Linked DNA regions of Homo sapiens. The protein of the gene in region 1 purifies or fractionates together with the protein of each later gene. This does not show direct contact. Each region holds a gene or a part of one and is shown on either strand. Other genes may lie near its edges.

The links.
Region 2: the proteins of EPN3 (region 1) and PHGDH purify together in Homo sapiens (affinity purification with mass spectrometry; 3 studies listed by BioGRID and IntAct, with this or other methods). This does not show direct contact.
Region 3: the proteins of EPN3 (region 1) and ARIH1 purify together in Homo sapiens (affinity purification with mass spectrometry; 3 studies listed by BioGRID and IntAct, with this or other methods). This does not show direct contact.
Region 4: the proteins of EPN3 (region 1) and CASP2 purify together in Homo sapiens (affinity purification with mass spectrometry; 3 studies listed by BioGRID and IntAct, with this or other methods). This does not show direct contact.

What each region holds. Positions count from the first base shown.
Region 1 is NC_000017.11:50,535,312-50,542,734, reverse strand, and holds part of EPN3 (epsin-3), read right to left. Parts: intron 6,315-7,423; 5' UTR 6,179-6,314; coding exon 5,617-6,178; intron 5,442-5,616; exon of another isoform or gene 5,234-5,441; intron 4,809-5,233; exon of another isoform or gene 4,657-4,808; coding exon 4,538-4,656; intron 4,145-4,537; exon of another isoform or gene 3,981-4,144; intron 3,852-3,980; coding exon 3,771-3,851; intron 3,549-3,770; coding exon 3,420-3,548; intron 2,489-3,419; coding exon 2,401-2,488; intron 1,943-2,400; coding exon 1,673-1,942; intron 1,507-1,672; coding exon 1,402-1,506; intron 1,272-1,401; coding exon 1,041-1,271; intron 892-1,040; coding exon 578-891; 3' UTR 1-577.
Region 2 is NC_000001.11:119,728,579-119,736,001, reverse strand, and holds part of PHGDH (D-3-phosphoglycerate dehydrogenase), read right to left. Parts: exon of another isoform or gene 6,369-7,423; intron 6,063-6,368; exon of another isoform or gene 5,603-6,062; intron 1,369-5,602; coding exon 1,236-1,368; intron 708-1,235; coding exon 559-707; intron 1-558. UniProt on the Homo sapiens protein: Catalyzes the reversible oxidation of 3-phospho-D-glycerate to 3-phosphonooxypyruvate, the first step of the phosphorylated L-serine biosynthesis pathway.
Region 3 is NC_000015.10:72,575,061-72,582,483, reverse strand, and holds part of ARIH1 (E3 ubiquitin-protein ligase ARIH1), read right to left. Parts: intron 1,754-7,423; coding exon 1,493-1,753; intron 410-1,492; coding exon 297-409; intron 1-296. UniProt on the Homo sapiens protein: E3 ubiquitin-protein ligase, which catalyzes ubiquitination of target proteins together with ubiquitin-conjugating enzyme E2 UBE2L3.
Region 4 is NC_000007.14:143,291,351-143,298,773, reverse strand, and holds part of CASP2 (caspase-2 isoform 1 preproprotein), read right to left. Parts: intron 7,235-7,423; coding exon 7,084-7,234; intron 6,475-7,083; coding exon 6,307-6,474; intron 6,158-6,306; coding exon 6,076-6,157; intron 4,545-6,075; coding exon 4,450-4,544; intron 4,178-4,449; coding exon 4,001-4,177; intron 258-4,000; exon of another isoform or gene 1-257. UniProt on the Homo sapiens protein: Is a regulator of the cascade of caspases responsible for apoptosis execution. Might function by either activating some proteins required for cell death or inactivating proteins necessary for cell survival.

The DNA.
Region 1 (7,423 bases):
CGGAATTAACAATATTTTCTACCTCAGAGAGTCGTTGCAAGCATTAAATAAACTGATCTGCTTAGCACGTAAGCAGTACCCAATAAATAGGAACAAAGGCCTATTGTCTCTTGCTGTTAGCCCAACCCCAGTGCCCATGTGTGATAAATGAATGAAATGACCGAATTGAGTGACAGCCTGGCAGCATCTGGAAGCGAAGGTGCCTGGGTGACGGGGGATGGAGGTGAGGGTTGAGAAGAGCTGTAAAGGAAGCGGGGCAGTTTTGCACCCCACGTTGTGCAGCTGCAGTTTCCTAAACAGCCGGTGATCCACGCTGTGGTCGAGACCCGGCCGCCACACCCCGCAAAAAGTCCACTTGGTGAGAGCTGAGAACGAGGGTTCCAGTCTTTATTATGCGGGCGTTCAGTTTCTAGCTCCCGGGCCGTGGTCCGCGTCCAGCTTCCAGAGCCGCCGCGGGATACCAGCCGCCACTGGCTCGGCGTTCCACTAGCACCGGCGCCCCGCCCAGCCCCGGGTCCGGAGGCGGGGCCGCGGAGCGTCCGGCGCAGGCGCAGGCCGGTATGGGACGGGGCGGGGCTCAGAGGAAGGGGTTGGTGCCGGTCTGCGGGGGCGGGGGCCGCGGCCCGGCTGAGCTCGGCGTGGGCAGCAGCGGCTGCGGTGCGAAGGCTCCGGCCTGCGGGAAGACGCTAACCGAGGCGGGGAGGGTCAAGCCAGCTGGCACGCTGCTGAGCGGGAGGGGCAGAGAGGCGCTGTAGGTCATGGAGCCCAGGGGCGCCCCCACAGGCCCGCCTGCCAGGCCCAGCGCCGGCGAGCCGGTGCGCATCTGGTTTAGCGTCGGCCTGCCCGGCTCGCCCGCGCCGAACGGGTTGGTGGGGGACGGAGCGCTGAGACCTGCAGAACGAGAGTGGCTTTGAGTGACCCGGGGTTCAGAGCCCTACACCGGGAGGTCGTGGAAGTTGGGAAGAAGAGTGGGCTCCTCCGGCGGAGGCTAGGCTCTGAAAGCAGGAGCCCCTGGGTTGAGGGACAAGGGCATATCTTACCTGTCAGGAAGGGGTTCCGGGTCTTTGCAACCTGGGGTGCCTTGACCAACGAGTCAAGGTTGACCAAGGAGGAAGCTGAGGGACCCAGGAAGGACTCGGGAGTCCGGCAAGCTCGGGCCTCTTTGCTTGGCTGGGTTAGTGCTTCCCCTAGTATGCCCAGGTCCAGGGCATCTGGCTCCTTCGTGCCATTTTGCTTGGAACTGGGGCTGGGGTCTCCAAACAGGTCCAGCTCTGGAATAGAAATGCTAGAGCTAATTGGTGGGGAAAGGGATTGGCGCCCGACGTGGGAGGAAGAGGACAGAGGCTGCTCGGGGTGGGCCCCTCATTCCCCAGAGCCTCACCATCCCCTTGCCCTGCTCACCCACAGGGCTGCTGGGCTTCCCAGAGGGCAGGGCCTGCTCCAGCCCCTCCTTGGTCTCTGTGGATTCTGGAGGTTTGGCAAATGGGTCAAAGGTCGAGGCACCACCTCGGAAGAGAGAGAGGAAGAGGAGATGGGTTGACAAAAAGGGCAGGTGTTGGTCTGACCCCTTTCCAGAGAAGCTGTCCTCCTAACACAAACAGTATCTGCTGCCCCTTGGCCCTGCCTGGAAGTCCCCCAGCTCCTCACTCACACTCTCTGGCCCTCTTCTTACCAGGTGTGTCGGAGGTCTCCAGGGAGGCTCCCCAAGGGTCAGCCCCAGTGCTGGGGAGTTTGTGGTGGGGAGAGTTCAGGGCCCAGGGGTCTGTGGTGGGGGGCCCAGCAGGCAGCACTGGGGTCCTGCCCCAGGGCTCAGAGGAGGAGAGCATGGGAGTCAGATCCCAGGGCTGGCTTCGGGACAGGACGGTTCCTGAGGGGATCGGAGACCAGGGGTCTGCAGAAGGCCCCCAGGAGGATCCACTGGCCTCTGTGTTCGGCCTAAAACCTGAAATGGGAACAGCATAGACATGATCCCAGGCCCACCCTTATCCCTCGCCCAGGGCCCTTCCCAGTTACCCAGCCCAAGTTGGGAGGCAGAAGATCCATGTCACAGATGGCCTGCAGCCTCAGGACCACCCAGCAGGCTGGAGCCCCTATTTGACAAGTGACCCCAGGAACTGGGACCTGCAGGTGTGGGCGACTCAGGCCACCTTCCCAGGCGTGCTGAGCAAGTGAGTGCAGCGAGAGAACATTTTGCTGCGTTTCCTAGGAGCTGGGCCCTTCAGACATTCTCCATAGCCCTCACTACGAAAGCCTGTCCCACAGGCGGCGGAGGCTCAAGGTGGTGAGTGACTTGCCCGGTGACACTCAGATTTTGGGAGGAGGTGCTTGGCCCAGCAAGTGGCTGGGAAGGAGGAGGCTCTTGGGCCAGCCTGGAAGTCTCTTGCAGCCCTGCATGCCCACCTGGGATGTCCCATGGGTCAGCAGAGCAGTGTGTGGAGGGCGGGGCCAGGGCAGGTACGAAGATGTCAGCCAAGTCCAGGATGGAGGACTGTGGAGGGGAGAGGCAGCCGCGGCTCAGAAGTGGGCGGGGCCTGGAGGGAGGGCAGGCCCTGACCTGTCAGGCTAATGCCAGTTCATTCTCTTTATTCATTCCACAGATACCTATTCATGATCCCTCACCTCTGCACAGTGCTTTACAGTTTATAATGTTTCTTCATCCACAGAGTACCTGATTTTCATAACAACCCTGTGAGGTAGGTAGGGCAGATGATGTACCCATTTTATGGATGAGCCAGCCAGCGCACAGAGGGTGGAATGGGTTTGCCTGAAGTCACACAGCCAGGGAGAGGCAGAGCTGGGATAGAATCCAGGCCAGCAGAAAGGGGCAGGAAGGCCAAAGGCAGATGTTTTTCAACCAGCCTACCTCCCTAGGTCAGTGTCCAAGAGAAACTGGCCACAGTGAACATGGACGGAAAGGAGACCACAGCACCCGGGCGTGGCATGGACAGCTTTGGAGGGCAGCCTTGCACTCAGCAGCTGCCCACTCCCCATGCGGAGAAAATATGTCCATGAGCCCGAGGTGTTTTCAGCACCATGTGCTTAGGCCAACCCTAGTCTTGATTGACAGTATCACATAATCCTAGCATGTCAGAGCTGGAACTATCCAATAAGCACACTGTGCAGAAGGGGAAACTGAGGCCATGACAGTGACATGCCCCAAGTCATAGAGTAAGTGGCAGCAAATCCAGAACCCGAATCCGGGGGTCTCCAATCAGGAACCTTTTGCATCCCACTTTGCTGTTAACTCAGTCACCAGCCCATGCAATGTGGGACTAGGGCTGCTACACCCCCACCCCTATTTCATCGAATAAACACATCAGTGCTTACTATATGCCAGGCACTGCTCTGCTCTCTCTTTACAAATACTCAGTCCATCTCTTAGGCCCTGTCCATCCCAAGCACCGCAGCCCACTCCCTACCTGGCTGGTTTTTAGCTTCTCCTCCTCCTTTCTCTCTTCTCTCTCAGGCTCTCTGTCCCGCTGATGGTGGACCACGGCCCCTGCACCATTGGCCATGGGGGAGCCATCACCCTGCCAGGACCTCACCTCCTGCAGAAGGCACAGAAAGAGTTAGGAGCATGAGCAGCTCAGGCGGGAATCCGGGGACCTGTGCACCAGAGGCTGGAGTCGAGAGAGTGCAGGGTGGGAGGCAGCTGAGAGGTTAGGAGCAGCAGGGCCACCGGGTACAGCGGGAGGAGGCTGTTAGTGCCCTGAAGCACCTCCACCAGCAGCAGCAGCAGCACCGGCAGCCCAGCGGGCTCGGCCCACTACCTTCTCGTGCTCCTGCCGGCTCAGGCGCAGAGCCAGCTGCAGCTGCAGGTCCTCGTCCCTGTGGGAGGCTGGGGGGACAGGCTGCGGAGGAAGAGAGGGGTAAACTTGGCCCTGTACCCCCACCTTGGGACCAGAAGGGCAGTATAGGCCTGCCTGGGTCATGGGGATGGAGACACTAATGCCCACCCTCAGTGTGCATGGGCCATTTGCCGCTCAGTCAGCAGGGTGGGCGTGGCCTTCTCCCTGCCTGCATCTGAAATGCAGTTTAAAGGTCAGGAAGACTGATCTTTCGCTTCTGAATCCTCTGAGAGTTCCTCAGGCCCTCCTGTGTGAGGCCCAGCTGCTTCCTGCCTGGTCTTCCTGGATCCACAGAGGTAATGGCAAAGATGATGATATCGGGGGCCTGTCCTTGTCTCCCCAAAAGGATAGCTGGTGGGCGGGGGTGGGAAGCATATCCCAGTGTCTCCTAGGAATATGTCTGAGCACACTCACCCACTCCACCATGAGGTGGTAGCAGGCACCCCAAGACATAGCATGTGCCCCTAATTGTACACTCGCCACCCTTTCCAGGCCCAGTGGAGAGGACTGGAGGCAGGGAGGCAGTCCCTGCCTGCGACAAACCGACAGAGATAATGGGTCTTGTGCTGTCCTTGGGCACAGGACTGGGGCTTTGGGTGACAGAGCCTGAGTCAAGGCCAAGGGGCTCCCAGGCACTCTCTCCCCCTAGCCCATCCCCTCCCCACCGCAGTGGGGCTGCATGGCCTCACCTTCTCTGCCTCCTCACGGCTCATGGCGAGGGCCAGCTGCAGCTGCAGTTCCTCTTCCCCTGACGTCTGAGGCCGGGCCTGCTCCAGGTCGGAGGTATAGCGGGGTGACGAAGAGGAGGCTGCAATGACCATCATGTCTCTGTGACCACACGATTACCCATCGGCTCCCACACCCCTCTGCCTGCCAGGAAGCTGAGGCTCAAGAGAACTGAGAGGAGGGGAACAACGGCCGTTGAGGCCCCCGTGGGCCAAGCAGTGTGCCAGGCACTCTGTAAGTTCCCCATCCCAACCCATCCCGGATGGAGGGGCGGCTCCAGTCCCTCCTTAGCAGATGCACAGGCGGCACTTAGGGCCCCTGACCAGGTTCCTGAAGCAGGACTTGAACCCAGGTGCCCTGACTCCAGCTCTTGGACTTCCAGATGGACCCTGTCCTGGCTTGGGGGCAAGGGAGGTGCAAGGATAGGAGGTTCTAGTCCAACGAGGTCACAACCTCAAAGCCCTCAGCAAACTGTCAAGGGCTTTATGGAAGGCGGGCCATTCTGAGTATTCCTCAGATCCTGGAAGCCCCCATGACTGGGGGCAGGAGAGTCAGGGACTGTCTAGCCGCTGCCCTCAGGTAGGGGGATGAAGGGGAATGCCATGTGTCTGGGTGCAGGGTAGAGGACGTTCCTGAACCTGGTCTCATTTCATTCTCAGATCAAACAATGGAGGTAGGTGAGCTTATCCCCACTGTACAGATGAGGAAACTGAGGTTCAGAGAACTGGTTGCCCAGGTCACACAGCTTGGAGGAAGCAGAATATAGAATGCTATCTGACTCCAAACCCATGCTTCCACTATCGCGCCATCCTATCAGGCAGCTAACGAATGATAATGAATCTATAACAACGTTATTATCTGAGCTAACTTGTTGAGCACCTCCTATGTGCCGGGTGTTGCGCCTTGCGTGTTACATTCCTTATGTCTGAATCTTCATAACACCCCTCGGAGGTAGGTATTATGAACCATGGCTTGGATTGCAGAGCCAGGAATGGAAGTCGGGCCACCTCCCCATCCCAGCCACACACCGGGGCTTACTCACAGTTGTAGGAGGACGGGGAGCCCCGGGAGCGGCTGTAGTCCTCGCCGTAGCGGCGGCTGAAGCCCAGCTGCCCACTGCCAATGCCGATGCCCTCCAGTGCCATGCGCTCCTTGGTCTTGAGGGCGTGGGTTCGCTCCTGCCGCAGCCGCTCCTCATCCTTGAGCAGGGCCATCACCTGCTTGACCTTCTCGCGCACGTTGACGCCCTGGTCCTTGCCGTCGCGGTCGATGTACTGGAAGTCCTTGAGTGTCTGGATGGTGTAGAGGTTCTCGCGGCACTGGTGGGCCACCCGCTCGGAGCCCGTCTTGAGCAGGTAGTCCAGCAATGTTAGAGCCTTGTACACGTGCCGCCAGTTCTTGCCGCTGTCATTGAGCCGCCGCCACAGCATGCCCATGACTTCGGTGAAGGCCACTGTGTTGAAGGTCAGGTCAGCGATCTCGGACATGAGCGAACTAGGGGGGCCCCAGGGGTCATTGCTGGTGGCCTCGCGCACCTTGATTTCTGCCTCGGAGTAGTTGTGCACGATGTTCTTCACCTGGCGCCGGAGTGCGGAGGTCGTCATGGCTGGAGACTTGGAGGTGGGTGGCCCTCGCCCCCGCCGGAGGTGGAGGGCTGAGGGCCACTGTGGCGAGGTCACAGTCTTGAAGGATGGGCTGCCGTGTTAGCAGAGCAGCTGCATCCTTGGGTTCCACATGGGGCTGAGGAAGAGAGGGCCAGGAACTCAGGGGCAGAGGCCTACCTCATGGGTCACTCAGCCACTGACCAACTAAATGAGGCCTGGCCAGAGTGTCCCTGCCTCCAGGGACAGCCTTCAGCGGCACACGTTCTTATTTCACTTACAATTCAGCAGGCACTTGGAGCTTTGCATGCTCATCTATCTATCTTCACAGCCACACCCCAAAGATGCTATTATCATTACCTCCATCCACAGATGGGAAAGGTGGGGCTCAGAGTATTAAATGGGCCCGGTGCAGTGGCTCACGCCTGTAATTCCAGGACTTCAGGAGGCCAAGGCAAGAGGATCACTTGAGGCCAGTAGTTGGAGGCTGCAGTGAGCCATGGTCAGGCCACTGGGCAACAGAGCGAGACCCTGTAATATTAAGTGACTTGTCCGAGATCACAGAGCTGCTGCATGGGGAACCAAGATGACCCCAGGAAGCCCCACCTAAGAGTGCATGGCCTCATGGGGGAACGCTAACAGGATTCCAGGAATGCCCGCTTGCCTTGCTTCTGCTCGGCCACTGCCTCTGTTTCTGCTGAGATCTAGCTTAAGACCTATCCTTCCTAGCTCCTCAGCTCACTTTTCTCATATTGTTAATTTTTGTAGTTTGATGCATTCAACACCTATTTCCCGGAGGCCTTTTCTGAGCCAGGCACCATGCCAGGCACAGAACACACGCCTTGGTCCACCCACGTTCAGTTGAGAGGGTACAGAAAATCACAGTCCAGTGTGGGAGTGCAGAGCCGCACAGGAAGACCCAAGCCAGGAAAATCAGGGGAGACTTCCTAGAGGAGGTGGTGACAGAGCTGAGATCCAAGATCACAAGGGAAGAGTAAGGAGGAGTGAACCAGCAAGTCAGGGGAGGGCGGCTCAGAAGAAATGCTATGACCTGGGCCAGAAGGCAAGAGAGCAAGTATCGTTTGAGGAAGACTGCCCCTCAGAGTTCTGGCCACTGCCAACACTCCTGCATGCCACCCCCACGTACACATGGAAGTGTTGAGGCCAGAGAGGGGATGGGACCTGCCTGCATCATATGGCACGTAAGTGGCAGAGCCTGGACTACCATCCAGGACTCCAGAAGACTAA
Region 2 (7,423 bases), on another chromosome or scaffold:
ATGCACTCTTCCCTACTGGATCTGGTGTGAGGCTGAGCCTCTGCTCCAGCTGGGAAAGCAGCCCACCCCGAGGACCCTGAGGGAATACTGCCAGTATCCTCGGGCTTCTGTCCACCCAGCAAGAGAAGAAGGGAAAAAGAATGCCCATGGACACTGAAAAGGACATTTTCTTGGCAATGGGACTGCATTTCCATCAGGGTCCCTCAACTATACACTAAAGCCCCCTCTCTTCCTGCTCCAGACCCTCAACTTCAGAACTGATTTGTGGCTTTATCTTTGTCAATATGTTAGCAGTCTGAGAAGCCCGGAACCAGGAACTGGGTCCCCTTTAAAGCCCGAGTTTTGCAGAAAACCACATAGCTGCCTCCATACCAGGCTCCGCAAGGACTCCTCAAACCACAAAGGTGTGTTTTTGGCAACACAGTTTTCTCCTTTTACCATGGATGAAAGAGACAATAAGCTAGAGGCTTTCTGTAAAACGCCAGGCTTTCCCTGCCATGGGCCTCTCTGCTCCCTATCTCTCCCGTCCTCCTGACGCTGAGGCTGCCAGGCACTTACTTCCGTAAACACGTCCAGTGCAGCCCCGGCACACTGGCCAGACTGCAGGGCCCGGAGCAGGGCGCCTTCGTCCACGATCCCTCCACGGGCACAGTTCACCACACGCACCCCCTTCTTGCACTGGGCAAAGGTGTTGTCATTCAGCAAGCCTGGAAGAAAGCGAAGCATCTTCCTGCTGGGGCAGCACCAGGATCCCCACGCTCATCCCTGGCTTCCAGAGGTCTTCCCTTTCCTTGAGCCAGCTCTTTCCCAGAGCCTCTCTCCTGCTGGACGGCAGCCTCTTTGCTCTCATCTCTTCCTCCTCAGATGCTCTGGGGCAGGAGTCCCTGTTATGGATCTGGGCCAGACTCAGTTTAGAAACATCTTAGAAATTCTTGAGATATTACTGTTTCAAGTGGGTCTGGGAATCAGAAAGCCCTGCAGGGGCTGCAGAAAGCATCCATGGGGGTCACTGGTTGTCCCTGTGCCCAGCTTACCTAGACCCCAAGCACTTCTAGCTGGCTCACCCTCCCCTATCCAACGTAGGGGTGTCTAACAAAACACCAGCCTCTGCAGGACCCAGGTGGACCTCTCCCCACAGCTGGTTACCACTGTCTGGGGAAGGCCCAGATGGAGGGCCCATTTGTTAACTGGTCTGTGGCTTCTGTGACCAATCCACAATGTAAGGACACACCTACCTGTCGTGGAGGGCAGGAGAGGAGTGTGCACAGTGATGAAATCACAGAGAGGCCAGATCTCCTCCAGGGGCAGCTGCTGAACACCAAAGGAGGCCGAGACCTCTGGGGAAATGATGGGGTCATACCCTATAGTCTGGTTGGAAGCAAGAGAGAGGGAGGAAGTGTCATTCTTAATTATTAGTATTGTTATTATTAAGAATGGCAAACATTTTTTGAGCATTTACCATATACTAACTACCATGCTCAGCTTAATTAATTCTCCAGTTAATTTACCATACACTAAGTACCATGTTCCACATACTAAGTACTATTTACCATATACTAAGTACCATGATCAGCTTAATTAATTCTCATGACCACACAATGATGCTGGGACTGTTCTTGTCTGCTTGAGAGCTGAGGGAAGCAGGGCTTCCACAATGAGGAGGGGCACAGCCAGAGCTCAAAAGAAGGTGCGTCTGCCTCCATGCTGTGATCACACACAGATGCAACAATAGCTCATATAGGTCTGGACAAGGTGGAGCTTGGAAGTCCTTAGAAAGCAGGGAGTCCTGAGGGAGGGAGGGCAGTCATGTAGGGAGCGGACAGCCAGGAAAGGGAGAAGGAGAAATGGCAGCTGCAGCTGGAGGGTCCAGTCCAGGAAACAGGTGCATCAGGTACTAAAACAGAGTGAGCAGAAGCGAAGGAGGAGGACAACAGGGGTACAAGGCAGGACCCAGAGTGGGAGCAAGACTGCATGCCCTCTAAATCAGGAAGCCTGACCTGTGTCCTCCCCCAGTCACTGCCCACTGTGTGGAAAGGTACAGGTCAGTTCCCCTGGACCTGGGTCCTCAACCCTAAATAAAGGAGCTGGGCAGATGATTGCAGCCATCTCTCACTCTCACATTCAATCACTGGGAATTATTTGAAGAGAAATCCCCCTTAACCCCGAGACAGAATGTAAAGAGTGAGCCCAGGATTAGACAAAAACAAAGAATACACAGCATAGTACTTTAACAGCGGTTGTCTCTGGGTAGTGGAATTATTTTTCTCCTTTTTGCTTTCCTGTGCTTTCAAGTTTTCTACTACATTATTCATAAATTACTTTTGAAATTAGGGATACAGTATAGATACTTTAGAATATAATGGGAAAGATGGGTGCCATTGCTCACACCTATAATCCCAGCACTTTGGGAGGCTGAGGCAGGAGGATCATTTGACCCCAGGAGTCAGAGACTAGCTGGAGAAACATAGTCAGACCCCCCCCCCTACAAAAAATTTAAAAAACTAGCCAAGTTTGGTGGCATGCACCTGTGCCACCCAGAAGGCTGAGGCAGGAGGATCACTTGGGCCTAGGAGGTTGAGGCTGCAGTGAGCCAAGATTGTGCCACTGCACTCCAGCCTGGGTGACAGAACAAGATGTCTCAGAAAAAAAAAAAAAAATAAAACAAAATAAAAAAGAACGTAATAGGAAAGAGGACTTCAAATTCAGTAATTCTAGGGCAGAAGCTAAAATGGTTATGATTAAGGTGAAGCCTCTGGATCCCTTTTTTCATCATTAGCCTTGTGGAATAAGGAAAGCCAAGTGGCCCCACACCAACCATCAGGCAGGTTTTGGGGAAAGATGCTGCCTCTCCCACGCCCTATAAGAACCTCCAGCTCAGAACGCTGGTGGTCTTTTTCAGACACTGCTGCTCCCCTCGGCTGTAACCTACTCATTTCTGGTGGGGAGGAGAAAGTGTCCAGGCGAGGAGATGGGATCCCTGCCATCGTTGTCACAAGTCTTCTTCGTCTGCTGGCCCTGAGGCCGGCCAGAACAATGGCCCTGTTCATCTCTAATCCAGATGTATTTTTTTTTCTCATATGGAGTGGGGAGAGGAAGGGAACACCAATAGAGATCACAAGGTCCAGCCTGACTGACGTCTACTCCATGCTCAGGAGCCAAGAACAACCTGGGGGCTGGCAGGAGGAAGGACCCTGCAGGCTGAACCTGGCCCCCTCCACAGACAGGTGACTGGGGCTGGAGGGAGGGGGTTGGGGAGAGGAGCAGGTGAGCATCTTCCTCAGGGGTGAGCGAAGCACTGACTCAGCTTCCTTCTTTCACAGAGAGTATCTCATTTATCTGCAGATGACTGCAGGGAAGGAATCTGGCTGAGCAAACCTCTGTTCTCATTTTCCATTTGAGATAACCAGGGCAGAGAAGAGCTGAACTCAGCTGGGGGTTGGGGTTCCGACACTAGGAGACAACACTGAGGGGATGGAAAGGGTGACAACAGGCCCAGGACACACGTGCCTGTCAGGGTCCTGGTGTGTCCTGGAAAGGGTCAGATGTCCTAATATACAGACATTGGAGCACCTCTGGGTACCCACCATTCAAAGACTACTCCCGGAGAGAAGCCTTGGGGAGAAACATGAAGGGGTTCCCTCACCTCAATCCCAGCCCCAGGGCAGACTCCTGATGTTGAGGCAACAGAGGAAGCCTCACTTTCTAAGCAGGACTCCAGGGCAGCTGGTGGCTCCTACCTGCCTGAGGTCACAGAAGACAGCCCTGAGAGGCTGGTATGCTGGCTGCAGGGCCTTGCTGGCTCAGCAGAGCAAAGAGGAGAGCAAGGAGGCCTCCCAGTTAAAGAGGCTCTGAAGAAGAACCCTCACCGTCACGTGCTCTCTCTGCCCCACAGCTGAATTTTTAGTTTAGCATTGGAACTCTCCCTACCACGGCAATGAAATCTTAAACAGAGACCCAAATATAAAAATAGGTCAATTCAAAGCTGCAGAGGTAAAGGCTCAATGTGCCACCACCTGCTGTCTCCCTGGGCCCCTCCTTGCTCCCACCTGTGTCCCTAAGGCACCTTGCCAGAACCCGAGGCTCTTGAGTTTGAGAATCACTGCTCTGGGCAGTAAGCATTCCAGGTAACACACTGAGATAGGAGCTGCCCATCCTGGAGAGTATCTGTCTTTGGAATAGCTAAGCATACCGGCATGGCACAGGGACTGTTTACCTAAAATGGATCATGAATAAAGTTAAGTGGTACTGGGCAAAGAATGCCAGCCTGGAAGGCTGAGCCGAAATTCACCAGTTCATAGTTGCATTATCTTCAGCATATCATAGAACCTTCCTGGGCCTCAGTTTCCTTATCTGTAAACCTGGGATAATAATTCTGACCCTGCAGAGTCATTTCAAGCACAGGAACCGACACAGTAGACCTCAGCAAACATTAGCTGGACCTGAAAAAATCGGTGATAACTGGTGCCTCAGGTTCAACATCCAACCCTCTGGGCTAAAGTTGGATTCATCACAACGCTGGCTACAAAGAAACTGTTAAGAGATGCTTGTCTGTTCCCTCAAGGAAAACCTTGATCATAAAGCACAAGGCTCGCTTCTTGATTGGTTTGTGCCTCTTAACACATTCTAAGGAACACACCAGCATGAATGAGCTGAGTCTCTGAGGTCACGACCTGTCATTCAGCAACACTATTGAGAAAAAGTCTCTCGCAGACACAACAGTATAGAGCGTTAAGACCTGTATGACTCAGACCACAGGTAGGCTGCAGGTCAGGCCACAGTGTGAGGAATGTCACCTCCCTTGCTCCGGAAGCCATACTTCTTTTAATGCTGCCAAATGTCAGGTTACCTTTTCTATCAGCTATGCCACTGACAACCACACTGCTCTTTTGTAAACCAAAGCCCTGCTCCCCCAGAAAAGCTTTTGACAAATGCTTCTACATCTAAAACTTGTCTAGCTGCTTTTTGGACCCACAAGTAGGGTGCAGAAATGTATTCTAGCTAAATTTCCTGTGAGGGTGCCCAACCATTCTAGCCTTCATATGTCTTTTTGGACCTGATTCTGCACCCTTAAGTATTAACTACCTCTCCTTGCTTCCTGCCATCCACAAATGACACATGGTTCAGGCTGTTGATGAGAATGGTGGGCAAGGTGGAGCACTATTGCATACTATCTCCCTCCAAACTGAGGTGGCCCATTCCACAACAGCACCAAGCACTAATCCCTTCAATAGCACCAAGCTCAAGGGGCTCCATCCGAACCCCGAGGGAATCATGAAAGATGTCTTACCAAAGTCCATATCTATACACAATCTAAATACCCATCATTGAGAGAATGGCCAAATAAAAAGCAATTTATCTGCACAATAAAATTCCACACAACTGTTTAAAAATATGCTAGATTTAGTTGTTCTGAGATAAACATGTTTTTTTCTTAACATCACAAACAATATTCTATTGTTTGCAGCCAAAGAATCCATCCACAGGCATGGAACTGTATGCATTCTGTGCAAATGCATAGAAAAGTCTCGGATGACATGCTAAACTGATGTTTACCGTGAGGAGACTAGGGTTCAGATGGTAATCAAGTATAGCCTTGTCCAAGTTTTAATTTATATGAGAATGCATTCCTTTATTACATGATTAAAACATAACTTTAAATAGTCCGGGTATCTGACATCTAGGGATTTCCATACTCTACCAGTTTAATAATGGTTTCCAAAAAGAGGATGAGGCTAGTATGAAATAACTTGTGTTTAATAAACACTTATCCTCATTTCCTGTCTGGGTGCTTATACATCTCTTTCACAATATGTTCAAGAATCTTCCTTTCCCTTTAGAAAATCTTGTTCTCCAAGACCGGTAGAACTGATGAGCTCTCCGCCCTAAGACAAAATTCATCCAGACTCAAAAGTATGATAATGACGTGGTTGAGGTAAGCAGCTGAGCACGAGAAGAGGCCACTTAGACTCTCCGGAATGATGAGGTCCAGGCAGCTCCGGAGGGGCTGAGGTGGGAGACGGAATGATCCAAGCCATGTTTCAGGGGTTTACAAAGAGCATGTTCTGGAAGCAAGACAGTTAAGAATGACCCTCCAGAGACATCTGGACAGAAGAAATGCAAAGTGAAGGCACTGGCACCCTCCACACCATGCTGGGAATGGGAATAAAACATTCAGTGGGTGACCTGCTCTGAGGCACAGATTAACACTGAAATGAGCAGGCCGTAGACATCTCTTTCAATCAAACACATGCACGAGAGGTGTCAGCCATTTCCTGACACTGATGCTCAAGGTCCCAGGTACCCATGCACCTCTTGGAAGCATCCCAGGGTAGAGAGTTGGGCAGTGCCAGATGGACAGACAAGCTTACCTAGCACCTCAATCATTCAGGAATGAGGTGGGGCTTTTCATCTGGTTGAAGTCGCTGCCGAAGTCTCCATGATGAAGAATATTGCCAGGAATATTGATGTGTAGTGGTGCCACGGAGAAGGAAGCCTGGGGAAGGGGAGTCATGGGGAAGAGGACCCCCTGGGGAAGGGGGCAGGAGCCTTGGAACGGCCACTGGTCTGGAGCCTGTCTCCCAGTTACTGCTTCATCAATGAAATGCTCACCTATTTGGCTATGAGTGCTCTTAGTTTTACTTAACTCCTGACCTCTGCCTTTTATATCAAAATTCTCCATGGACTAAACCTTGACCCTTGATCCCTTACAAAAGAGGATGGAGGAGGGAGTGCTCTTTGTGGCTTATGGCATCCCACCATCCCTGCACAGAGGGCAAGGCTGTGGTTTGTTTACATGATCAATGATCCTGCTGGGCTACATCTGCCTCTCTCAGGAGTCCAGGGATCAAGAATACACCTGGCCCTTCTCAGTGCAGAGGCTTAGGAAAGATATCTGGCTGACTTAAATAAATAAGATGGGGAGTGGAGGCAGGAGGGAGAGGATAATATTCAATGTGTACAATGGGATGCTCACCAGGCTCTAGGCTACTGTCCATTTGCTATGAGTCCTTAGGCATAAGCTTACAAATTCTAGATGTCAATGTAAAATTAAGGGTTAATCTATTAAGATCCCTTCTAACTCTAAGAAGGTAGGAGGGATGTAGAAAAAGGGAGAGTTCCATAGCAGCTCTATGTAAACTTTTCTAGATTTGACATGATCTGGTTGTCAAAACTGATCTCCTAATGTTTAAAGACTTCCTGGCTGCAGTTTGACCCCATAATCCCTGTAATTCCCTAAAACAGAAAGTGAACAGAGAGATGTCCCATAGTAGCCTTAGTGGGTTCATCTCTTTGGCCTATCTGGGAAGCCCTGCAGATCCCCTCTCTTAGCTGAATTGCCTCTCTCATTTGCAAGGTCTCCTGGATTAGCCCAAGTGGGTGGCACTGCTACTGATGGCAACCAGAGGGTTGCAATCAGGCTAAG
Region 3 (7,423 bases), on another chromosome or scaffold:
TCATCCTAAAGGCCACTTGGCCTTTTTGGATTCTTTCTTCCTTGCAAGGTAGCAACTAAATAACTGAACAGAAGTGGAATTAGCCAATAGAATAAATGGCTGAATTCCTTCTCTATGTATGCTTCACCAATACTATTACCTGCAATTTAGTGCCCAACGGACAGAAGCAATCTGTGAGAAACATGGCAAAAGCTCAGTTGCTGGATATGCTAAACCCAGTTTCACTATCACTGAACTTTACCAGTAAGGATCATCACTGGCAGAAAGTTTTATTCAACAGCTTAAAAAAAAATTACCTGTACTTGTCTTGTACTTTCTGCTTTATATCCTGCAGAGAATCTTGGGAAATATCTCGTTCAAGGTAGCCCGAGAGCACCTCTGTGGCATTCTCTAGATCTGCTTGGTTATTCTGTAAGAAGAATGAAAGTAAATTTTGGCTTCAAAATAAAGCTAAAAGATAAACCATTTTCACTGTTTTGTTGACTACAGACTGCTCTCAACACTCATTCTGTAACTTTCATAGGTGGTTTAACTGCACCTGTAAAGCTCTATGGGCTTTCATCTCTAATAACTTGTTTGTTCTTTTCCAGAACAATTTTTTAAATGTTAAAAGAACGAAAGATTTCACCCATTACTTTTGGAAGAATACTGAAGACCATTTGAAAGGATTTAAAATGTCTTTTGGAATCTTCTCGTTCTGAGAGCTGCTCTTTGCTGAAAACTCAAAGGTAAATGAGAAAAAATAGAAACCTATTATTGCTTACATCTGGCTATACTTATTTCTTATAAGAAAACACTGTATGGAAGATTCAAATTGTATCATCCTTTACCACTATGGCTAGTTTTGTACCTGTTACCCAACTGAAGTCCCATCTGCTAGTCAGTCTTATTGTCTAGTCATATACAGATATCAATGTTTTATGCATCAATTTTAAATGAACATCTTTACTTGAGAAAACCTTTACTGCTAAAAGCTGGCTTTTTAGTCATTATTTCTCCACTAAAGATAACCACCACATTAACTTCTAATATTGCAGGGTTAGTTTAGCCTGAATAAAGGCTTTTATTGAGAACTTATGATGTTCCAGGTGCCGTATAGCAATTAACACAAATTGTCTCACATAAAACACAAATTGTCTCACTTAAACCTCATAACAACCTAGAAAGGTACTATCCTCACTTTAAAATGGACAAATAAGAGGTTAAGGAATTTGCTCCAAATCAACAGAGCTAAAACATAATGAAGTAAAGATTAAAATCTAGGGCTGACTCCAGAACCTGCATACCTAATCACTAGCTGGCTAAACCACATCGATCTGAATATAATTTAGGACAAGAAATAGAAATTTCTTGTATCTTTGTAATAAATACATTCGTCTACCTACATGTTCTGAACAAACAAGAACCCTGAAAACTCTGTATCTTATATATGAAAGATCAGGTAGACCTATGATACAAGGTGGGCTTTTTCCTCACCCAGAACTACTCCTACCTCAAAGATAATGGACTGGTTATTCTTTTTGAGGTAGAAAGCGAAGACATAAGTGTACATGAGTGTGGCACGACACTGGCAGAGGACATCAACTGCCTTCTTCAGGAACTGCACCTCAATCCAGGACATGTTGTGCTGCTGCATCTCCTCCATTTTCTGTTTCACCTGAGCATATAGTTTGTGCTCAAAGCGCAGGCTCTGCATGTGGTTCATATAGCGATTACAGTAGAACAGGTACCTCTGCAGGGCTGCCCTAGATCGCTGTCCCATTAAGAAAAATTGGGTGATATAATTATAACACATAAACTGTACATAAAAGCTGATTATCAAATTAAAACCATAATGAAGTCTCACTTCACACCTGTTAGAATGGTTTTTATCAAAAAGATGAAAGATAAGTCTTGGCAAAGATAAAGAAAGAAGGAGACTCTTGATACACTGTTGATGGGAATGTAAATTAGTATAGCCATTATGGAAAATGGTATGGGGAGGTTCCTTAAAAAACTGAAAACAAAACCACCACAGAATCCAGCAATCCCACTACTGTGTATATATGAAAAGGAATTGAAATCAGTATGTCAAAGGTATCTCTGTACTCTCACATTCACTACAGCATTATTCACAATAGCCAAGACATGGAATCCATGTAAAGTGTCCATCAATGGATGAACACAGAAAGAAAACGTCATGTATGTACACACACACACGAGTACTCAGCCTCAAAAAAGGAATTCTGTTGTGACAACATGGATGAACCTGGAGGACATTACACTAAGTGAAATAAGCCAGGCACAGAAAAGAAATACTACATGATCTCGCTTATATGTAGAAACTAAAAAAGTTGAACTCACAGACATACAGAGTATAATGACGGTTACCAGAGGCTTGCGGGGATAGAGGGGTAGGAAGGGAGGGAATGGGGAGTTGGTGACCAAAGAGTACAAAGTTTCAGATAGACTGGATGAGTAAGTTTTGAGATTTATTGCACAACAGGGTGAATATAGTCAATAATAATATATATTTCAAAATAAGTATCATTTCAAATGTCTCACCATAAAAATGTTAAGGCAAGGCAATACAACAATTAGTTTGATTTAATCATTGCATTGTTTACATATTTCAAAACATTCCACTGTACTCCATAAATGTGTATAATTATGATTTGTCCATTAAAAATATTAATAATTTAAAAAGCTGATTTACTGATGAAACAGTACTGTGATCTAGGCTAAAATCAGGAATAGACATCTACTGCTACTTTTGTTATTTAATACTCTTGAAAAATGTCCTATTAATTGTACTTTCCAATACAGTAGCCACAAGCCACACCTGACTACTTAAAATTCAATTTAAGAAACTAAAAATTCAGTTCCTCATCGCTCAATAGTCACATGTGCTTAGTGACTACCAAATTAGACACTGGTGATAAAGAACATTTACATCATTACAAAAATGTTCTACTGGATGGCACTGTTCTACAGTATGCCACAAGATGTAAAACAAGCAAAAAGCAGAGATATTTTTAAGTAGAAAACTACAGTGGCAACTACATACCATGTAACTCCTGATATAATACAATAGAAAGTATAATCAATTAAGTATTCTGGGCTCCCCCCCCAACCACTGAATCTGAATTTGATCAAGTTTCTTGAATTAATCACCAGTGCAGAAAATGCAGGGATAGAAGAACCTATTAAATGACACCATGCAGTTGCAACCAGCAAAATCCATAATGTGGGAAACTCTACAGGACAACACGATCTAGTTTCTTCAACAAAGAAAAAAAAGCAAGGAGGGGGGAAGAGAAGGAACAACAGGTAGAGGAGACTCAAGAGATATCAATTAAATCCAATTTGTGGACCTATGTGGATCCCAATTTGAACCAACTATAAAAGAAAATTTAAGATAGGCTGGGTGTGGTGGCTCATGCCTGTAATCCTAGCACTTTGGGAGGCTGAGGCGGGTGGATTGCCTGAGCTCAGGAGTTTGAGCCAGCCTGGGCAACACAGTGAAACCCTGTATCTACTAAAATACAAAAAATTAGCTGGGCGTGGTGGCATGTGCCTGTAATCCCATCTACTTGGGAGGCTGAGGCAGGAGAATTGCCGAGTTGCACCACTGCACTCCAGCCTTGGGGAGAGAACGAGACTCTACCTCTGAAAAAAAAAAACAAAACACCAAAAAACAAAAAAAAGCAAAATTTAAGATAATTGGGGATATTTGAACAATAGATAGTTGATACCAACAGAGTATTGCTTTAAAACATATACAGTTGACCCTTGAACAACACAGGATTAAACTGTAAGTCTACTTTATATGTGGATTTTTTTCAATAAATATATTGAAATATTTTTTGGAGGTTTGCCAACAATTTGAAAACACTTGCGGACAAACCAAAATTAAGAAAAAGAGTTGTCATGAATGCATAAGACATATGTAGCCTATCTTATGATTTACTACGATAAAATATACATAAATCTATTAATAAAAAGTTGAGATTTATCAAAACTTATGCACACAAACTCTTACAGACCGTATATGGTACCATTCACATTGAGAGAAATGTAAACAAACGTAAAGATGCACACGGTACTCTGGAAGGGACTGTCAATGCTATCGAAGAGAACCCCCACAGAACATCATGGAAGTCTGGAAGGAGAGCACCACTGAAGATGTCATCGTTGTTATAGAAAAAACCATGGCATCATCAAGACTGAAACAATAAACTCCTGGTAGAGAAAACTGTGTCCAGATGTTGCGCGTGACTTCGCAGTATCTACAACAGAGCCCATCAAGGAAATCACGAAAGAGACTGTGGATATGGCAAAGAAAACGTGGAAGGTGAAGGGTTAGCTAACAGACACCACACCAGAGGAATTAAAAGACCACTTGATGGAGATGAGCTGCTTCCAAACCAGTGCCAGATGATGAGGAAGAAGACACTAAAGAAGCAGTGCCAGAAAATAAATTGACATTAGACAATTTGGCAGAAGGGTTCTGATTACTTAAGACTGCTTTGGACTTCCTTTATGAATGGACCCTTCTATTATACCAGCACTGAAACTAAAGCAAATGGAAAGAGGATTGTTACTATACAGAAACATTTTTAGAGAAATGAAAATGCAAAACGGTTCGTAAGGTTTTCCTGTAAAGTTACACCAAGTGTGCCTGCATCTCCTGAATCCCATTCGACTTCCTCTACCTCTGCCACCTGAGATATAGCAAAACCAAGCCCTCCTGTATTTTCTTTCCTCCTCAGCCTACTCAACTTGAAGACCTTTATGATGATCCGTTTTTTTGTTTGTTTGTTTTTTGTTTTGAGATGGAGTCTCACTCTGTCGCACAGGCTAGAGTGCAATGGTGCGATCTCGGCTCTCCACGACCTCCACCTCCAGGGTTCAAGTGATTCTCCTGCCTTATCTTCCCAAGTAGCTCGGATTACAGGCGCCTGCTACCACGCCCAGCTAATTTTTGTATTTTTAGTAGAGATAGGGTTTCACCATGTTGGCCAGGCTGGTCTCAAACTCCCAACCTCAGGCAATCTGCCCACCTCAGCTTCCCAAAGTGCTGAGATTACAGGCGTGAGCCACTGGGCCCGGCTGATCCACTTCTACTTAATAAAAAGTAAACACATTTTCTCTTCTTCACAATTTTTTAAAATAACTTTTTTCCTAGCATACTTCATTGTTAAGAACACAGTATATGCCAGGCACAGTGAGTGGCTCACGCCTGTAATCCCAGCATTATGGGAGGCTGAGGTGGGTGGATCACCTGAGGTCAGGAGTTCAAGACCAGCCTGACCAACATGATGAAATCCCGTCTCTACTAAAAATACAAAAAAATTAGCCAGGCATGGTGGCGCATGTCTGTAATCCCAACTACTTGGGAGGCTGAGGCAGGAGAATCGCTTGAATTCGGGAGGTGGAGGTTGCAGGGAGCTGAGACCTGCCACTGGCACTCCAGCCTGAGTAACAAGAGCAAACTCCGTCTCAAAAAAAGAAAAAAAAAAAAGCACACAGTATAATAAAACATGTAACATACAAAATATGTGTTAATTGACTATGTTATCGGTAAGGCTTCTGGTCATCAGTAGGCTATTAAAACAGGTAAGTTTTGGGAAAATCAAAAGTGGTATGTGGATTTTCCATTGCGGAGGTAGGGCGGGTTAGTGTCCCTAACCCCTGAATTGTTCAAGAGTCAACTGTAATGGTATTACAGTTATGTAAAGAGAGTCTGTCTTTAGAGATATGTAAAGTATATTGTTATCAAAGCAACAATGTATCTAGTTTAGATTTGTTTTGTATTATTACATTATAATATATAATTATTCATATGAGGCCTCTACCATTATACCATAAATCTCTAGAGGGAATGGACTTTTAAAAAGATAAAGTATTTCCAATACCTGATTTGCAGAAAACCATTAATAAATGCTTACTAAATGCAACCACTATCAAAGGGTTTTTTTTTTTTTTTTTTTTTTTTTGAGACAGAGTCTTGCTCTGTCACCCAGGCTGGAGTGCAGTGGCACAATCTCGGCTCACCACAAGCTCCACCTCCCGGGTTCATGCCATTCTCCTGCCTCAGCCTCTGGAGTAGGTGGGACTACAGGTGCCCGCCACCACGCCCAGCTAATTTTTTTGTATTTTTAGTAGAGATGGGGTTTCACTGTGTTAGCCAGGATGGTCTCCATCTCCTGACCTTGTGATCCGCCCGCCTCGGCCTCCCAAAGTGCTGGGATTACAGGCATGAGCCACCGCGCCCGGCCCCTATCAAAGGGGTTCCTAACACACGTATGTTCTTTTCCTTTATCCTTACCTCCTCTTTCTCTCCCCATGTTTTAAAGCCTACATAACAGATACTACTTGGCCCTATGGTTGGTCCCTTGCTTAGAAATACTAATTCTGAGCCACATAATTAGCTAACCACATGATCCAGCATTATACAACGAAACACTTCAAAAAACCAACACAAGTTGGGCGCGGTGGTGCACACCTCAAGCTGCCTCTAGTTCCAGCTAATGCAGAGGTTGAGGCAGGAGGACCACTTGGGCCCAGGAGTTCAAGGCTACAGTGAGCTATGATCATGCCACTGCGAGACCCTCATCTCAATGAAAAAACAACAAAACCACAGCCATGTTATTTCAAGAGTCAGGTAAGTATCAAACCAATGCTTATGAACAGGAAAATTATGCCAATCTGAAAATATGTGGAAAATCTGCTTGGCATTTTATCTTCCCCTAAAGTACTAATATTTCCAAGCCTGTCAAGTTCCCCAAATGAAATGAAAACCCTCCCTTACCATATTGACATGTATGATGTTATGGGACTTGACTTAATCTAAGAATTCTGAAACTGCTTCTCACTAAAATTCAACATGAAAAAAGAACACCCATACCATCACTGCTAATAAGACTTTTTTTTTTTTTTTTTTTTTTTTTGGAGACAGGGTCTTGCTCTGTTGCTTGAGCTAGAGTGCAGTGGCACAACCATGGCTCACTGAAGTCTTCCCAGGCTCAAGTGATCCTCCCACCTCAGCCAGCGTGCACTACCATACCTGGCTAATTTTTAATAAATTTTTTGTAGAGACAGGGTCTCAGTTGTTGCCCAGTCTGATCTCAAACTCCCGCACTCAATCCTCTCGCCTCAGCATCCCAAAGTGCTAGGATTGCAGGCGTGAGCCACTGAGCCTGATCAAGACAAATTCTCCAATCAAATGCCAGAATCTGGAATGAGAAATGTAATCAGCGACCTGAAAGCAGTTTGGGGAGCGTGGAAAAGACAACAAACTTGACTGCTTAGAACAGGGGTATACAAACTCTGGCCTGCATGACAAATCCAGCTGCCACCTGTCTTTGTAAATAAAACTGTTTTGCTTTCTTTGTTGTTTTTTTGTTCTGAGATAGGGTCTCTGCCATCCAGGCTAAAGAGG
Region 4 (7,423 bases), on another chromosome or scaffold:
GACTATTTACAGGTGTAAGATCACTACTGATCAGCACAGGAGTTTTCACCTGCTCCATTTCTGACCTGGGCTGGTACACCCCTCCTTAGGCAACCTGGTGGTCCGCCACTCCCAGGAGGTTACCATATTGATGATGAACTTAGTTTGGACACCTGATCAGCATAGCACACTACAGCCTAGAACTCCTGGGCTCAAGGAATCTTCTTGCCTCAGCCTCTAGAGTAGCTGGGACCATAGGCATGTGCCACCATGCCTGGAGAATCTTGTTTATCTTGCACTAAGTTGCGATACATGAAGAGCACTACCTTAAGCATTTGGTCCATCCATCAGAAGGTTATACTGTGTACCTAAAGAGCATAATAATTGGGCACACATGTTTAAACCTATGCCTCCCTCTATAATTCACGATGTCTGGGTCTTCTGAGATGGGCAGAAAGAAAACAAGTTCATTTTATTATAAACTTGAATAAAATGTAATGAAAATAAGTAAGTTATCTGGGTGGAAGAGTTAAAACACACATATATTTAATCACACACACTGCCAAAATAAAAAGCACACTTCTATAATATAACATATTGCAGTAGTTCTCAGAGTGGCCCCTAAAGCAGCAACAGCAGCATCACCCAGGAACTTGGAAGAAACGTGAAATCTTGGGCTCCAGCAAAATGTGTTTTAACAAGCCCTCCAGGACACTGTGATATGTTAAAGTTTGAGAGCTACTAATTGATCTGTTCGGAATACTTCTGTTTGTAGATAATTGAGATGCAATTACATAAAATATTTGAAAGTCTGCAATATAACTAGAAATAAAGAGACTGGTGTTGTTGAAAAGTATCTGTATTTTCTAAGTAGAAGCAAACCATAATAATAGAAATCTTAAGGTAATGACAGATAATCAAAAAATTCTTTCAAGAATATATAATTTCAAGAGAATACATAACTGTGAATGTTCCTCTGGAGCTGATGCTAATAGAATTTAACATTTAATAGTTAAAGAAGTTAATTTTGCTCAAAGAAGAAAACAAAGGCCGGGCGCGGTGGCTCACGCCTGTAATCCCAGCACTTCGGGAGGCCGAGGCGGGTGGATCACCTGAGGTCAGGAGTTTGAGACCAGCCTGACCAATGTGATGAAACCCTGTCTCTACTAAAAATACAAAAATTAGCCGGGCGTGGTGGCATGCGCCTGTAATCCCAGCTACTCAGGAGGCTGAGACAGGAGAATTGCTTGAACCTGGGAGGCAGAGGTTGCAATGAGCCCAGATCGCGCCATTGCACTCTAGCCTGGGCAACAAAAGTGAAACTCCATCTCAAAATAAAAAAAAAGAAAACAAAAATTATATACCTGGGCACCGAATCACGAGCATTTTGAATTTAGTGAGATTAGGTCAGTAAATAGAAAACAATGTCCAAAAAAAGAATACACGCACTTTGTAACCAAACTTAGTAAGACTAAACCATTCAATAAATGGGGATTAGACATTTGGAGGAATTTTTCTACAAGTAGCATAGCTTAAAATAGGATCTGCAGATTTGTTTTTGATAAAATTACAGTACTTCTATAAATAGCAGGGTTCTTAACTCCTAAGTGTATTTTTGGCTAGGGGTTGGGGGACATGTGAAGAGAGTAACTTGTGAACCCTCTGAAATTATATGCTAAATTATATGGGCAGCTGCATTTTCCAGGGATAACCCATAGCTTGTCCTTACATTTTCAAAGCAGTTTGTGACCCAAATGCAAGCTAAAAAAACAATACCACATGGTAAAAGGAAATTTCCACTTTGAAGAGTACGTTTCCTAACATAGGGTAAATCATAATTCTAGAACTAGTAACCTCATGAAGTAGATGCAATAAAAACTTAATAACAAAGAGAAAAGTGAAAACATCTGGGCAGTGAGAATACCCATGTTCACTGCAGCACTATCAGGGGAAGAGGAGTCTCTAAGACTAATTATACTATTTCCTGTTTTTAAATGGAATTCCTCTCTTAAGTAAGAAAGATTTGATAGGGAAAGAAAAAAGGATCTTTTTTTTTTTTTTGGTTCTGTTTCTTTGCTTGCCAAATAGCTATATGATAAACGAGTTGACTCTCTAGGGAGATCCCACCAGGAAGAGAGCATTCTGTGCAGATGCCCAGTGTACCAAATTATGACACCCATTGCAACTACCTGGTTTATAACACACACATTTCTTGTCCACATACTGTTCTCCCTGCCTAGGGTGGCTTCACCACTCCTCTCTGCTTCAGTAACTTCTATCCTTCAAGGCCAGCTTAAGTTCTGCCTCCTCCACTTATCCTTCTGATCATATCTACCTAGGCGCTTCTTCTTCTTAGCTATGACAGAAGATTTTTTCTCTAATCTTGTTTGGTCGTTAGGAATATAAGAGGACACACTTCCTTTTATGCTGATGTCAAAACTCCCTCATCTGATCTTTAAAATCTGTGGCAGCTCACATAGTCCCCCATTATAAGGTGCTTGAAGTTCAACTCTACTGCAATTCCAGTTACAGAGCAATTCAACCAAAGAATTAGAATCCAATAGGTCACTGAATATGCATCAGGCTTACCATAAATGGAAATGCTATTTATGAAGTGAGCTCATAAACTCACCAAATCTGACAGTCTCTGAGAAAACAGCAGTATATATAGTTGACTTAGTGACTCAGTATTTTATCTTTAACTATTAGACATGTAAGATCCTTTATCAGCTGCATACAACTTGAAAAACCATGACATAATAGATTTCTAGTAAAAGACATGGCTAGACCAAAACCTCTAAGAAAACACACACACTGCACATTTTGTTAAGTGACCTTCTGTAGGAATTATGGCTGGTACCCTGCCCTTTGCCCCTTTATGCCCAGCAGACTTCTCAGGAAAGCATATAAACTACCTGAATACTTGATGACTGAAGCAGCTGTTGCTGCCATGGCTTTGAAGCAAGGGTGGATTTAACTACATTGCATATGCTACAAGGGGGAAGCTGGCAAAAATAGCATGTAAAGGACAACACCCAGGTACCTGTGGATGAAACTGGCCTTGCCAAAAATATAGTAAATACATAATTACTCTCACAGAAGGAGGGCAGCTAAGAAAGAGAAATGAAGACTACAGACAATGCTGAATGGAAAACAAAGATCCTCTATCCCAACAGATCAAAGTGAATCTCCTAGCAATTTTAATTTCACCACTGACAACCTCAAAGCAAGTTGAAGAAAGTTCTACTATTCTGGAATCAAAATAAAGAGTGAATATGAATCTACAAATAGGCCATTATTGATTGCAAAATAGAAACCCTAAAGGTCACAAAGTCAGTTGTGCAGTACAGTAACTGAGGTTAATGACGAACAGCCCATAATGAAAATGTTTACAATTTCTAGAAATCTGGTCCACAAACAATCTACCCTATGACTTGTGATTACACAAATGTTAAGAATACTTTCCCAGCCAGGTGCCGTAGCTCATGCCTATAATCCCAGCACTTTGGGAGGCCGAGGGGGACGGATCACCTGAGGTCAGGAGTTTGAGACCAGCCTGGCCAACATGGCAAAACCCCGTCTCTACTAAAAATACAACAATAAGCCAGGTATGGTTGCATGCGCCTGCAGTTCCAGCTACTCAGGAAGCTGAGGCAGGAGAATCGCTTGAACCTGGTAGGCAGAGGTTGCAGTGAGCCGAGATCGTGCCATTGCACTCCAGCCTGGGTGACAGAGCTAAACTCTGTCTTTAAAAAAAAAAAAAAAAGTGAGACACCAACTGTGGACTATTATTACTTTATGAAACCACAACCTGAGATGTCAACACTAAAATGGCTGGCCGGCCCTAATTCTTTCTTACTAGAATGCAAGGTGAGAGGCAGAACAGAGTGAGTAAAAATGTAAGTAGAATAAACCAACTTTTAAGACATATCCCAGCAGGCACAGGAACAAACGATGTCTCTGGTCCCAAAGTGTTGTTCAGTCCTCTAATTTACATGTCAATTTTTCCCACCTCAGGTACCTGTGCAGTCTGGTCACATAGAACATGGACGTCATAGCCCAAAAGCTTGAAGAGGGTGACTAGAGTACTGTGGTCCACATCCCCTCCAGAGCGAAATTCCAGTTCTTTCTCTCCAGTGAAGTGCACATTGCTCAACACCAGTGCTAGGCCACGAGGCCGAGACTGCAACCTATATGCCTGTGGAGGAGAGGCCAGTTAGACCATGAGCGTCTTGATAACAGATGATTCCTCGGCTAGATTAGACATTTCAAGAAAACAAAGACATCGTATTTTTCTTCTTAACCTCCAGCAGGTAAAAATAGACAAATGCTCACAGAAGGCATTTAACCAGTAACAACTTTCTGACTAATAAGGCAGAAAGGAAATGTACATGCAAACTAAGTTCAGGTTCCCAGGAAGGGTGTCTAATTTCCCAACTCTCTTCCTCTTGTCATTATGCAAAAACTCACCAGCTGGAAGTGTGTTTGATAAAATTCAGGAGTGCAAGGCTTCACCTGAAGGCAGACAGGACCATCTTTATTGTCTAGGGAGTGTTCCACAGTATCTGTGGTATAGACAGAAAACCAAAAAACTAGTATATAACTTAACCATCAATCTTAATATGTCATTGTAACTTCAGACATCTCTTGCAACTGGGTTGTGATAAATATTGGTCTCACTCACTACCCAAACCTGTAAGCTTCATGAGGGCAGAGACTCTTAGTTTTAGCTCACTAAAGGATTCTCTGCACATAGCCTGCATGAAGCATATGCTCAACTGGCTGAATGACCGAATGGGCTAGCTGATAAAAGCCTCGTTCCAATCACTAGGATGCTCCATCAGCAGGCTGGTGGCCCCAAATGTAGTCTTTTCTTATTCAGCTTTTTAGAGGCCAATTGAGCATGAACTTCCTGCCCATACATGCTACTCAAAGGCCCAATTATCACAAAAACTGTTATCTGGGGTGGAAGGGAAATGGACCAACTATTAATAACACCTTGCCTGGGCCGGGCGCAGTGACTCATGCCTGTAATCCCAACACTTTGGGAGGCCGAGGCAGGCAGATCACGAGGTCAGGAGATGGTGAAACCCCATCTCTTACTAAAAACACAAAAAATTAGCTGGGTATGGTGGCACGCACCTGTAATCCTAGCTACTCAGGAGGCTGAGGCAGGAGAATCACTTGAACCCAGGAGGCAGAGTTTGCAGTGAGCCGAGACTGCACCATTGCACTACAGCCTGGACGACAGAGCAAGACTCCATCACAAGAAAAAAAAAAAACAAAAAACCACAAACTCCTGCATAAACTGTCCTACTAGCCCTTAACAAATTTACTGACAACTGTTCCCAATATAAACTATGTCTCAGCTGGGCATGGTGGCTTACGCCTATAATCCCAGCACTTTGGGAGGCCAAGGCGGAAGGATCATTTGAGGCCAGAAGTTTGACACCAGCCTGGGTAACAAAGTGAGACTCCTTCTCTACAAAAAATTTAAAAATGAGCTAGGTGTGGTGGCATGCACCTGTAATCCCAGGTACTTGGGAGGCTGAGGCAGGAGGAGCCCTTCAACCCAGGAGTTCAACGCTGCAGTGAGCTATGGTGGTGTCACTGCATTCCAGCCTGGGTGACAGAACAAGACCCTATTTCTGAAAAAAAACACAACAAAAAAAAAAAAAAACAAAAAAAAGGGCTCATGTTAGGACAAAGCCAGATACCAGACAAGAAAGGGGAAGTCAATCTGGGACACCCCCCTCCTTTTTATTTTATTTTATTTTATTTTTTGAGACTGAGTCTCACTCTGTTGGCAAGGCTGGAGTGCGGTGGCACCGTGTTGGCTCACTGCAACCTCCGTCTCCTGGGTTCTAGCAATTCTCCTGCCCCAGCTTCCCGAGTAGCTGGGATTACAGGCACCCACCACCATGCCCAGCTAGTTTTTATATTTTTAGTAGAGACGGGGTTTCACCATGTTGGCCAGGCTGGTCTCGAACTCCTGACCTCAGGTGATCCACCCGCCTTGGCCCCGCAAAGTGCTGGGATTATAGGCGTAAGCCGTGGCACCTGGCCTGGGACCCCTTTTAGTCCATCAATTCTCACCTGTCGACAGGCGGAGCTTCTTGTAAAGGGGACAGGACTCACACACCGGAAAAGGGAGACTCAAGTCGTAGTCACAGCTCAACTGTAAGAAATCAAAACTCATGATGACAGACCTTAGGGAAGTGGTCCGGTCCAAATACAACAAAATCTAGTCTCCCTCACTCTGACTTACAAATTCCTTTCCAGTCAAACTAACCCTTCCCAACACCCCATATTACTAAAGCTTCATACCGGTGGGAGTACATGCTGAAGCCCAGAAAGGGTGGTGAGCAACATATCCTCCAGGTGGCCTTGCTTGGTCTCCCTCAGTGCTTCACAGAAGGCATCAAAAGCTTGGGGACCCCTCTTAGGCAGCAAGTTGAGGAGTTCCACATTCTGGCTGAAACTGCCCACTTTGGCCTAAGACACAAGAATAAAACATGAAATCATATTTACTTCTCTAGCTATAATTCTATTTCTCCACATGAGCTTCCTAGTAGTGTCCTCATCCAAGAATTCTTTTTACAGGAAAAGTGTATGTATGGGTGAAGTCCTTTCTGTTATTCTTGAGTTATATATCATTTCTCTCAAATGCTCTACGGTAGAAGGGCATTTCCATTTCTTTAGAAAGGTACAACATCCAGCTGGGTGTGGTGGCTCACACCTGTAATCCCAGCACTTTGGGAGGCCGAGGCAGGTGGATCATGAGGTCAGGAGATCGACACCCTCCTGGCTAACACAGTGAAACCCTGTCTCTACTAAAAATCCAAAAAATTAGCCAGGCATGGTGGCACCTGCCTGTAGTCCCAGCTACTTGGGAGGCTGAGGCAGGAGAATCACTTGAACCTGGGAGGCAGAGGCTGCAGTGAGCCAAGATCGCGCCATTGTACTCCAGCCTGGGAGACAGAGACTCTGTCTCAAAAAAAAAAAAAAAAAAAAGGAAGAAAGATACGACACCCTTTCCATATTTTGTCATGCTCTATTCCCACCCCATGATCAATTTATCTTCTCTCTTTTGCCTCCAGATACCTGGATGAGCTCCCTCATTTCCAAGGTGATGATGTCCTTCTCCAGAAGATGTTCTAACAATTCGCTCAACAACAGCTGTTTGGCTAGCACCACTCGGTTCTTTTTTAGAGTTTCCTGATGATGAGGATGCATGCCACACACTCCCAATATCCTACAGATAAACGGTAGAAGGAAAGGCTGTCAAGTCACAATTTGACACAGAAGAGTGGAGTGGAAGAGGCATGAATAGGAAGAACAAAAAGAATAAGACTTACAATAACCAAGATTATGCATATTTCTTAAATCTGGTTAAAGCAAAGATGTACTAAGCAGGAACACATTGATCATAAGAAAATAATGT